Linked DNA regions of Homo sapiens. The protein of the gene in region 1 purifies or fractionates together with the protein of each later gene. This does not show direct contact. Each region holds a gene or a part of one and is shown on either strand. Other genes may lie near its edges. The genes, in order: ZNF8, MRRF and NFX1.

What was found.
Region 2: the proteins of ZNF8 (region 1) and MRRF purify together in Homo sapiens (affinity purification with mass spectrometry; one large-scale study listed by BioGRID and IntAct). This does not show direct contact.
Region 3: the proteins of ZNF8 (region 1) and NFX1 purify together in Homo sapiens (co-immunoprecipitation; one large-scale study listed by IntAct). This does not show direct contact.

The regions. Positions count from the first base shown.
Region 1 is NC_000019.10:58,277,406-58,281,157, reverse strand, and holds the start of ZNF8 (zinc finger protein 8), read right to left. Parts: upstream 2,204-3,752; 5' UTR 2,077-2,203; coding exon 2,011-2,076; exon of another isoform or gene 549-2,010; intron 1-548. UniProt on the Homo sapiens protein: Transcriptional repressor. May modulate BMP and TGF-beta signal transduction, through its interaction with SMAD proteins.
Region 2 is NC_000009.12:122,323,865-122,327,516, reverse strand, and holds part of MRRF (ribosome-recycling factor, mitochondrial isoform 1 precursor), read right to left. Parts: 3' UTR 1-3,652. UniProt on the Homo sapiens protein: Responsible for the disassembly of ribosomes from messenger RNA at the termination of mitochondrial protein biosynthesis. Acts in collaboration with GFM2. Promotes mitochondrial ribosome recycling by dissolution of intersubunit contacts.
Region 3 is NC_000009.12:33,296,919-33,300,570, reverse strand, and holds part of NFX1 (transcriptional repressor NF-X1), read right to left. Parts: intron 1-3,652. UniProt on the Homo sapiens protein: Binds to the X-box motif of MHC class II genes and represses their expression. May play an important role in regulating the duration of an inflammatory response by limiting the period in which MHC class II molecules are induced by interferon-gamma.

The DNA.
Region 1 (3,752 bases):
GCTCCTTCTCATCACTGAATACTGGATGGCTCCTCTCAGCCTGGCTATGGTAGACTGAGATATATAATGGCCTCCAAGGATATCCAGGTCCTAGTTCCTAGAACCTGTGAATATTACTATATATGGTAAAAGGAACTGTGCAGATGTGATTAGGATTTTCAAACAGAAAAATTATCCTGGATTATCCAGGTGGGCCCTAAATGCAATCACAAGTGTCTTTATAAGAGGTAGACAAAGGGAGCTATGACTATAGAAGACATAAGGCAATATGATCACTGAAGCAACATGCTACAATGCAGGCTTTGAAGACAGGCAAAGGGCCATGAGGCAAGGAATAGAAGGTCTGTACCTCTCACAGCTGGAAAAGACGAGGAAACATTCTACCCTAGAACCTTGGTAGGGAGGGTAGCTCTGCTCATACCTTGATTCCAGACCAGAAAACCGATTTCAGACTTCTGACCTCCAGAACCTAAGAACAAATGTTTTAAGCCACAAAATTTGTAGTGAATTGTTACAGCAGACACAGATAACCAGATAAAACACTGGACCTTGAAGCTCTCCATTCTGGTCCTTGTCTCCTGTGATGGACAGTCTCCAAGATGCTCCCCCACCACCTCTGCCAATGACCTCCAGCCCTGGTGTGGTCCCCTCCAACACTCAACAAGGTTGACTTTGTAACCAGTAAGACACCGTGGAAGTGACAAGAGTGTGAATTCTGAATCCAGGTCATGGAAGGTGTTACAGTTTCTACCTTGCCCTCTCCTGGATCACTTGTTCTGTGGGAAGCCAGATGCCATGTTGCAAGGATCCCTAGCAGTTCCAAAGAGAGGCCTACATGGAGAACAACTGAGGTCTCCTATCAACAGACATGTGAGTGAGCCATCCTGGAGGTGGATCCTCCAGACTCAGGTCTCAGGTGACAACAGCTATGCTGACATCTTCACTGTAACTTCATGGGCCTGAACCAGAACCACCAGCTAGGACATTCCATTACTCCTGTCAGAACTCGTGAGATATTTATTGTTGTTCCAGGTCACGAAGTTTTGAGTTACACAGCAACAGGTAACTAATACACTTTCTCTCAAGCCTTTCTTACGACTCATTCCTTGTCCCCCATCCACAGCAAGAACAAAATAAAACGTGGTAGCATTTCATGCAAATTTGGAGCAACACACATCTGAAAACCTGCAACCTAAGATTATCAAGTCTCACTTTGTGTACCAAATCTGAAATAATGCAAATCCCCATGAACAAACCAACGACAAAAAATAAAAAAAAGTATAATTTCAAAGTTGCAGAGCTTGAGGAAGGATAATTATTGTTGTTTCCTGCCACGCGAGGCAGCTTTATGGAGAACACAGGCCGCAACCACTTTGTCTAGAAAGTGGAGCTCTGATGGCCAGATGGCCCTGCAAACACTGACCGCCCTGCACTGCAGTTCTCCCACAGTCTCGCAGGGGACGACCCTGGTGGTCACTCTCATCACACTCAGTGCGTGGTGACCCATCATTGCCCCCAAGAGGTTGTGCCCAAGCCCCAGGGCAGGGGCTCCGCGGTGCTGGGGTCCCGGTGGGTGTCCGCTGACTCCACGCGTTAAAGCATCTCTATTCGATGATTCTTGCCATCTGGGCACCCGGCCAACGCTACAATTACTGTTATCAGTCAACACGAGGACAGACCTTCCTGGAATGGGCAAGGGTGTCGGCGGGGCGGAGCAGAACGCAGGAGATGGGCCTGCTCGATTCTCTCGGGAATGACCGACCCCAGCCCTGGGGAGGACAGAGCCGCGTGGAGCATGCGCATTCGGGGGCCAGGCGCCTGGTTGGAATCCCGGCCCCCTCTCTGACCAGCCAGGACGGTCACCACGCCCCGACCCGCGTCTGAGTTTCCCCACGTGTCAAGGGCATTAACAGCGGTGCCGCTCTCATCGCGCCGCGAGGTGAAAGGGTCAGTCTGCGCGGGAGACGCTTGCCCGGAGCCCGCCGCCGTCGTTATTGTTGTTATTGTTACCTGAAGCCGGGCCGCCGGCGGCCCCACAGACATCACTCCCGCTACCCCTTCGTCCTCGGGGTCCATGCTGGATCGCCCAGTGAAGGACAGCGCCTGAGGTGATCCCCAGACCAGAGAGGCACTCCAGCCAAAGGGACCACCCGACTCGCCGAACGCCGGACAATGGCGGCCGCACCGGCGACGCGGCGACTACAACTCCCAGTAGGCCGTGCGGCGAACCACAGCCCTCGGCCAATGGGAGTCTCCGCTGGTCTGGCCTTCGACCAATGGAAGCATTATGGCCGATGGCCAATGGGAGCCCCCACCCGCTGGCCTCTGGCCAATGGGAGCACTCAGCTAAGGCTGGTGGGGGCGGTGTTGCTCGGGGCTGCGATGCCCCTTAGGTTGCGGGCAACCAGAGGCCTCACTCGTGGGCAGGAAGCAAGGGCGGACCCCGAGAGATGACTGATTGTGGGGGTGGGGACCGTCTGCTCCTCCTAATGGCTGGGGACCGTGCACGTCTGCGCGGGCCGGACCTGCTCTTCTCGGGAACTTGCGCGGGAGGAGGCCCGGAGCTGCGCCGCTTTACCCTCTGCTCCCCGGTGCCTAAAACGCACACGCATCAAAGTCACAGGACGAGTTAGAGGTTTGTTCATATAAAAGACTTTGGGCTTAGCGGCTGGAAGCGGGGAGGCTGGGAGCGGTGGTTGTGTTACAGGAAAGGGGTCCGATTCAGACCCCAAGGGAGGGTTCTTGGATCTCGCGCAAGAAAAAATTCAGGGCGAGTCCGCAGTGCAAAGTAAAAGCAAGTTTGTTGAGAAAGTAAAGTTGTGAAACAGCTACCCCATAGACAGTAGGACGTTCCTGAAAGTAAGAGGAACGTATGCACCCTAGGTACAATGCTTGTGTATATTTGGGCTAAAAATAGATTTTGGGGAGATGTGCTCTGCTACAAGGGTTTGTGAAAAAGGATTAATTTTCTTACTGTATTTTTCAAGAATCGATATTATTTTTAAAGCAAAATTAGGAATGCCTTTGTTCTCTAGATACCGGGATATCTGGACACTCCCAAGTCTGGGTCTGTTTTAGTACCCATTATTAATTTGTTCCCTTAACCGTAAACATCTAGAGGTTAGGAATACCTACTTTTCTGGGAATGCAGCCCAGCCTCATTTTCCTAGCCCTCACTCAAAATGGAGTCGCTCTGGGTCGAATGCCTCTGACAGCCCTATTGCTTCTCCCTGTGGGTGTTCACTTTGTGATGTGTCTTTTTCTGTGGGTCTGTTGTAGTCCATTAAAATGTTTATTAAAGGTCGGGCGCGGTGGCTAACGCCTATAATCCCAGCACTTTGGGAAGTCGAGGCGGGTGGATCACGATGTCAGGAGCTCGAGACCAACCTGGCCAATATGGTGAAACCCCGTCTCTACTAAAAATACAAAAATTAGCCCGGCGTGGTGGCGGGCACCTGTAGTCCCAGCTTCTCGGGAGGCTGAGGCAGGAGAATCGCTTGAACCTGGGAGGCGGAGGTTGCCGTGAGCCGAGGTCAGGCCACTGCACTCCAGCCTGGGTGACAGAGCAAGACTCCGTCTCAAAAAAAAAATAAAAAGTTATTAAAAAAGAAAAATGGGGAAGCAGATTTCCATTCAAAAATGTTGCATTCAAACCACAACAATTTTTAACTTTTTTAAATTTTACCAAGAGCCAGACACATAGCAGGGAACAGTATAGTTACTTGTTATTTGCTCACCCCCATGGGGCTGAT
Region 2 (3,652 bases), on another chromosome or scaffold:
ATATCAAAATTTGTACCCCCAAAATAGGGAACATATCATTTCAAATGCACATCATGAAAAATGACCGTCTATTAGGGCAAAAGAAAGCCTCAAAGTGGCTTTTGAGGATACAAGCTTTTATGATCACTCTTTGTCTAACCGCAAAGTTTCACTGAGTGGTTTCAATGCAACAAAGAATGTAGAAGCAGTTTGAAAACTAAAAAGCACCAAGCAAATATTAGTTACTGATCTGTCAATACTGTTATTGTTGTTATTATTATCATTATTCACTGCTTGGTGAACATTTTGCTTGCTCTCTGACATATTCTAGAGAAGTTGGCCAAACAGGTGGGGGATTAATATGTAATCTTTACTGTCTCCATAAGAGCTACCATTTCTTTGGTGTTTACAATGTGCCAGGTACTATGCTATTTTACTTGCAGTCATTAATTAGGAACAGCTTGCTATGTGTTTTATGAAAGCAAGACTTCTGCTTCTCTCACATCACCGTCCAGGTCCAGAACAGCGCGAGGTCCCTTTTGAGTAAGTGTTCAGCGAAGACTTGGGAACCAAAGCACACTGATTAAGGACCTACTTCAAGGTCAGATGTGGGTTTGAAATTTCATTCTAGCACTTACTACCTGTGTGACCTTGGGCAAGTTAAATATCCTTTCTGAACCTGTTTTTTTCACAGAAAAACACAGATAATCATAACACCTACATTAACAAGGATTCATCAGAAGTTTCAATGTGGGAACACGTGTAAAGGGTCTAGCATGGAACCTGGCCGACTGTAGGCATTCAATAAATGTTAGCCTGAGGTTGAAGGAGAAAGAGCAGACCTTATCAGATAATCTTAGAATAGGGGCCTTTCTTTTTTCTTAAAAAAAAAAATCATCTTTAAACATTCTCCAATGCATGTGAAATAATTTTTAAATAGTGTCATGGGCTAATAGTGAATTAAGTTATGGTAGACCCATATTATGGAATACTGTATCACAATGAAATAATAAATTGTATCTATTATGTACACACATGGACAGATGACCATGATTGTTACAGGGTAAGAAAAAAAAGCAAACATCAGAATATGAATAGTTCCCCTCTCTCCTTCTAAAAAATTATATGGCCGGGCGCAGTGGTTCATGCCTGTAATCCCAGCAATTTGGGAGGCTGAGACAGGTGGATCACCTGAGTCAGGAGTTCAAGACCAGCCTGGCCAACATGGTGAAACCCCATCTCTACTAAAAAAAAATAAAAAATTAGCTGGGTGTGGTGGCGGGCGCCTGTAATCCCAGCTACTCAGGAGGCTGAAGCAGGGAAAACTGCTTGAACCAGGGAGGCAGAGGTTGCAGTGAGCCGAGATTGCGCCAATGCACTCCAGCGTGGGCGACAGAGCAAGACTCCATTGCAAAAAAAAAAAAAAAAAAATTATATATGGCCAGGCAGAGTGGCTCACACTTGTAATCCCAGCGCTTTGGGAGGCTGAGGCAGAAGGACCGCTTGAGGCCAGGTGTTTGAGACCAGCCTAGGAAACAAAGCAAAAAAAAAAAAGCCAGGTGTGGTGGTGCATAGCTGCAGTCCCAGCTACTCAGGAGGCTGAGGTGGGAGAATTGCATGAGCCAAAGAGTTCAAGGCTGCAGTGAGCTATGATTGTGCCACTGCATGATGGGCGACAGAGTGAGACACTGTCTCAAAGGCAAAACAAAATGAAACGAACACACACACACACACACACATATATGCACAGAGAAAGGAGGTCTGGAAAGATATATACCTAATTTTAAAGGAGTAGGGCCTGGTGAGATTTTTTTTTTAACTTTCTGCATTCCAACTTATTTTGTAATTTCCAACACACACACACACACACACACACACACACACACACACACACACACACACACACCAGACAGGAAAAAAATTCTCAAATTCTCTCTGGCCTGAATATTTCATAGGACTTTGAAAGTCATTAAACTGAATAGAAGAGGTGGTTAATTCTTCTGGCAAGTGTGAGAATTTCCATACCCAGTGTTTCTTTTTGAGAGAGGCTGTAGGAGAGAAGAGATGGAGAATGAATTGCTCCAGCATTACTCATTCTCAGCACATCCAAACAGGTAGTCTCATTCTTGTCCCTGTCACCACTACAGCCCTGACACAGAGTCACAGAGAAACTCTTTGATAAATGTCAACTGAAATTGAGTAATCATCTGAAAGCCATTTGCTGAGCTGTCTGACTGCCCTGGGCTCGAGGTTTTCCTTTATTCATTTATCATGATACAGCTTTGGCCAACATACACACAGGAGAGAAATTGTTGACATGTGGAACCCAAGTACAGAAAATCTTTCATTTTCCTCCCTGTCTGTTCACCAAATAAGTTTTTGTTTATTTAAAGACTACAGAGGATTTGGCTGTTAAGAACCAAATGCCTTTGGAGTGGAATTACAACATAATTTATCATTTCCTCTGTTTATTAAAAAATCCTGCATCTTTGAGAAGCACATTTGCAGTGAGTGGGGGATTTCGGCCACTCATGAAAGACTGTTGCAAAGCCCCTGTCATGTGGCTTACCCCAAAAGAGGCTCCTTAATTGCTCTATCTATCCCTGCTCTTCCCCCAGCTGACTTCTGATCATGTGATGACCACTTAGGGCTGGTGGATGGGGTTAGAGGACAGGTAAGTGGGGCAGGAGACTGTGTTAGTTTAACTTTGACCCAATTTTGACCTTGAATCCTCACTGCATGTTTCACCAGTGTAAGTAAAGAGGGAAGTGCAACCCTTATTACCTCCAGCACAGGAGAGAATCTGGAGGAAGTCAAAGAGCAAAGAGAAGTTGGATGTTGCTTTGAAAGAACTCAGCCAGGCCTTGCCACCACCAAAGTGGGCTCCATTCTGAAAGCAGACACCTTGCAGAACTGGAATGAACTTCCTACTTTTCCACCCAATAGATTATTATAGACAGCAATTTAGTTCAGTGCACTATGTACCCCCCCAAAACAGGGGTCATATCTTTCCCATTTTTGTATTGCCAGTACATAGTTCAGCACCTGACAAACAATTGGTGCTCACTAAATGCTAATGAAGGCAGCAGGACACAGTGGTTCCTTCCAGATTGGTGAGGTGCTGAGAGAGTGTGAGCCCAGAGAAGGCATGGAAGCTCCACACCCTCTCCCTCTCCCTCAACCTTGCCCTGTGTACCTCCTTCATTGGGCTGTTCAGCTGTATCTTTTATAATAAACCAGTGAACGTGTTTCCCTGAGTTGTGTGAGCTGTCCTAGGAAATTAACTGAACCAAAGGAAATCAAGGACTCTAGTTTGTAGTTGGTCAGTCAGGAGTATGGGTGGCCCAGACTCATGACTGGCATCAAAAGTGTTGGCAGTCTTGGGAGATGGAGCCCTCAACCTGTGGGATCTGACACTATTTCCAGGTAATGTCAGAAATGAATTGAATTATAGGATACCCAGTTGGTGTCTGCTGGAGAATTGCTTGGTGTGTGGGGGAAACAAACTCACACACCTTGTCACAGAAGTGTTCCATGTTGAGTGTGAAAGTACAAAAGGAAAAAAAGTTTGTTTTTTTCCTTTTACATTAGCACATCAGGCCTCAATTTGAATGCCAGCTCTGCTACTTGCTAGGTGTGTAACCCTGCACAAGAAACTTCACCTCTATGTAAA
Region 3 (3,652 bases), on another chromosome or scaffold:
TTTCAATACAGCCAGATACTCTCAAAACTGAGTGTGAGTGTGTGTATATGCTTTTTTGAGTACATACTTTTAGCACTGCATTTATTTCATAATATTATTGTTATTTGCTTTCAGGTCTAAATAAGTTAAAAGAATAAAATTAACCTTAAATACAACATTGCAAGCACATTACATATTATTATTTAGTCCTCTCAAAAAGGCTGTAACAGGTTGGACACGGTGGCTTACACCTGTAATACCAGCACTTTGGGAGGCCAAGGCGGGCAGATCATGAGGTCGGGAGATCAAGACCATCCTGGCCAACATGGTGAAACCCCATCTCTACTAAGAATACAAAAATTAGCTGGGCGTGGTGGAGTGTGGCTGTAATCCCAGTAGTAATCCAAGGAGGATGAGGCAGGAGAATCTCTTGAACCCGGGGGCGGAGGTTGCAGTGAGCCGAGATTGCACCACTGCACTCCAGAGTGAGACTCCGTCTCAAAAAAAAAAAAAAAAAAAAAAAAAATGCTATAACATAGGTACCATTTTACAGATGAAGAAACTGGCTTCATGTAGTTAGATCATTTATCCAAGGTCACACAACTAGAAATTTAAAAGTCAAAATTCAAACTTGTCAAACTATCTGACTCAAAAGCGCACACTGTAATATTCCATAATATTGGCTCTCCTAAGATTTACTTTCTGATTGTTCAGTTTAATGTCAAAAGAAATAGAGAACACCCTGAGACTGAAAGCTCAGGAGAAGGGAGAGTTTTGTCTACCTTGCTGAGTGTAGTATTTCCAGTGTCTGGCATATACTAGGTGCTCCATTAAATATTTGTTAAATTCATGGATAAAGGAATAAATGAGTGATATTTAGTCTGTTCCACAACCTCTTTCTGTGAAAGTTACAGGCGTCACCAAAGTTTAGGCTCGAGTGCAGTGGCATGATCGTGGCTCACTGCATCTTCAAACTCCTGGGCCCAAGCGATCCTCCCACCTCAGCATCCTGAGTAGCTGGGACCACAAGCGTGTGCCACTATACCTGGCTGATTTTTTTGTTAGTTTTTGTAGAGATGGGGTCTACCTCTGTTGCCCAGGATGGTCTTGAACTCCTGGGCTCAGGTGATCCTCTTGACTCGGTTTCCCAAAGTACTGGGATTACAGAAATTTAACCAAATTAAACAAAAATCTTCCCTGAATAAGAAGTAAATAAAACAAGAGCAGAAACATCTTTTCCAAAAAGGAAAGATGAAGAAACTGTCAGAGATGGTAGGAGACTCAGGAGACATGACTAAATGCAACGTGGTATCCTGGATTGGGTCCTCAAACAGAAAAAGGACATTGGCAGAAAAACTGGTGAAATCTGAATAACATCTGTAGTTTAGTTAATATGATTATACCAGTGCTAATTTCTTAGTTTTAACAAAGGCAGTCTGGTTATGTAAGACGTTAACATTAGAGGAAGTTGGGTGAAAGATATATGGGAATTCTTTGAACTATCTTTGCAACTTTTCTATAAATCTGAAATTATTCCAAACTGAAACATTTTACAGACAAACACCTTTTTCTCTACTAGGCTTTGACACTTCAGTAAATGCCAATTCCATTCTTTTAAGTTGCTCAGGCATAAAATCTTCCTTCCAAATACATCCAAAATCTATCCAATTGTTACCTTTTCCACACTATTACTCCAGTCTAAGTCTCCATCATCTCCTACCTGAACAACTGCAATAGCCTCCTAACTTGTCCTGTTGCCTTCTTAGAGCCTATTCTCCACACAGCAGCTTAATAATATTTTTTTTTTTGAGACAGGTTCTTATTCTGTCACCCAGGCTAGAGTGCAGTGGCACAACCACTACTTACTGCAGCCTTGACCCACTGGGCTCAAGCGATCCTCCTAGTTCAACCTCTTGAGTAGCTGGGACTATAGGCATGTGCCACCACGTCCAGCTAATTTTTATTTTTTTGCCTTTTGCAGAGATGGGGTCTCATTAAGTTGTCCAGGCAGGTCTTGAACTCCTGGGCTTAAGCAATCCTTCTGCCTTGGCCTTCCAAAGTGCTGGGATTACAGATGTGAGCCACCACATCCAGACCCTAAGTGATTATTTTAGAATGTAAGTTCATGACATCCCTCTTCCCAGGACCTTCCAGCAGCCTCTCATCTTACTCAGAACCAAATCCAAGGGACTCACATGATCCAGCCCTTGCTATTTCTCTGACCACCTTTCCTGCCCCTATCTTCATTGCCTATAATACCCCTCCCCACATCTAAATTTGCTCCTCCCTCTGCCTAGAATGCTCTTTCTCAAGCTAGCCACATGGTGCATTTCTGTACTTCATTCTTGTCTCTGTTCAAATGTCTCCTTATCAAAGAGGTCAACCTATGTAAAATAGCACTCTTGTCACTCTGTCTTCTTAACCTTCTTAATATTTCTTTTTAGTCCTTATCACCACCTGACATATTAAATATCTAAGTGCTTTCTGCCTGTCTTCCCTACCAGAATGTAAATTCCATCAGCATTCCCTGTACCTAGAACAGTGCTTGGTATATAGTATTTATGCAACAAATATGAATGAAGTGTTCTCAAAAATGATATGAATAATGTGAGAATGTTAAGGCCCCAAGAGATTTGTTAAATAGAATTCTAAGATGGTCTTCCAGATTCCCACCTCCCTGGTATGCATACCCTATATAATCTCCTCCCCTTGAGTATGGGTGGGCCTGACTTAATCAAGTAAGCCATTTTAAAAGAGTTGAAAATCAAACAGAAGTCAGAGAGATCTGAAGTGGCAGCAGCTGCTTTCCCGCAGGCCTCAAAGAAGCAAACTATCATGTTGTGTACAGAGTCATGTGGCAGGGAAACACAGGTGGCCTCTAGGAGCTGAGAGAGACACCCCTGGCCAACAGCCAGCAAGAAAACAGGAACCTCAGTCCTACATCTGTAAGGAACTGAATCCTACCAACAACCAGTGACTGAAAGAGAACCCTGAGCCTCAGATGAGATCACATGCCTAGCCAAATTTGGAGACACTGAGCAGAGAACCCAGCTAACCAGGACCCATTCATCTGACCCACAGAAACAGTGGCATAGTAAATGTGTGTTATCATAAGCCACTACATTGTGATAATTCACTATAAAGCAAGAGGTAATTATTAACCAGCCTTAAGGATTCAGTAACAACTCTGGTATAACATTGCTTTGCTTCACATATACATTGAGGTTCCAAGAATAATCCTGATAAAGCAAGAAACTAGAACTATAGGCTGGTGTAAAAACAGGCCCTGGGTAGATGGTGGCTTCAAGGGTTGGGCTGTATCTCACATTAAACTGGAGAGGGATTAAGATAGTGAAGGTCCAGGAGGAAGAGCTAGCAGAATAAAACTATTCAGCTTGATGAAATATACACTTAGGGCAAAATGATAGATGTCTTCGAATACTGCAAAAAGCTGATTTGCAGTAAGGAGAGGGGGAGCTGTGAGAAGACAGACTAGTTACTATGCTGCTCCGGAGGATAAAACTTGAACCAAAGGATAGGAAGGAAAGGAAAGAAGCTTTCAGTTCAATATAAGGATGAACTTTTTAATGGTCAGAACTGAGTACCTACTATGTTTCAAGAGCTGTGTGGGGCAGCAGGGTCACAAAAAAAGAAAAGAAATATACAGTGTCTG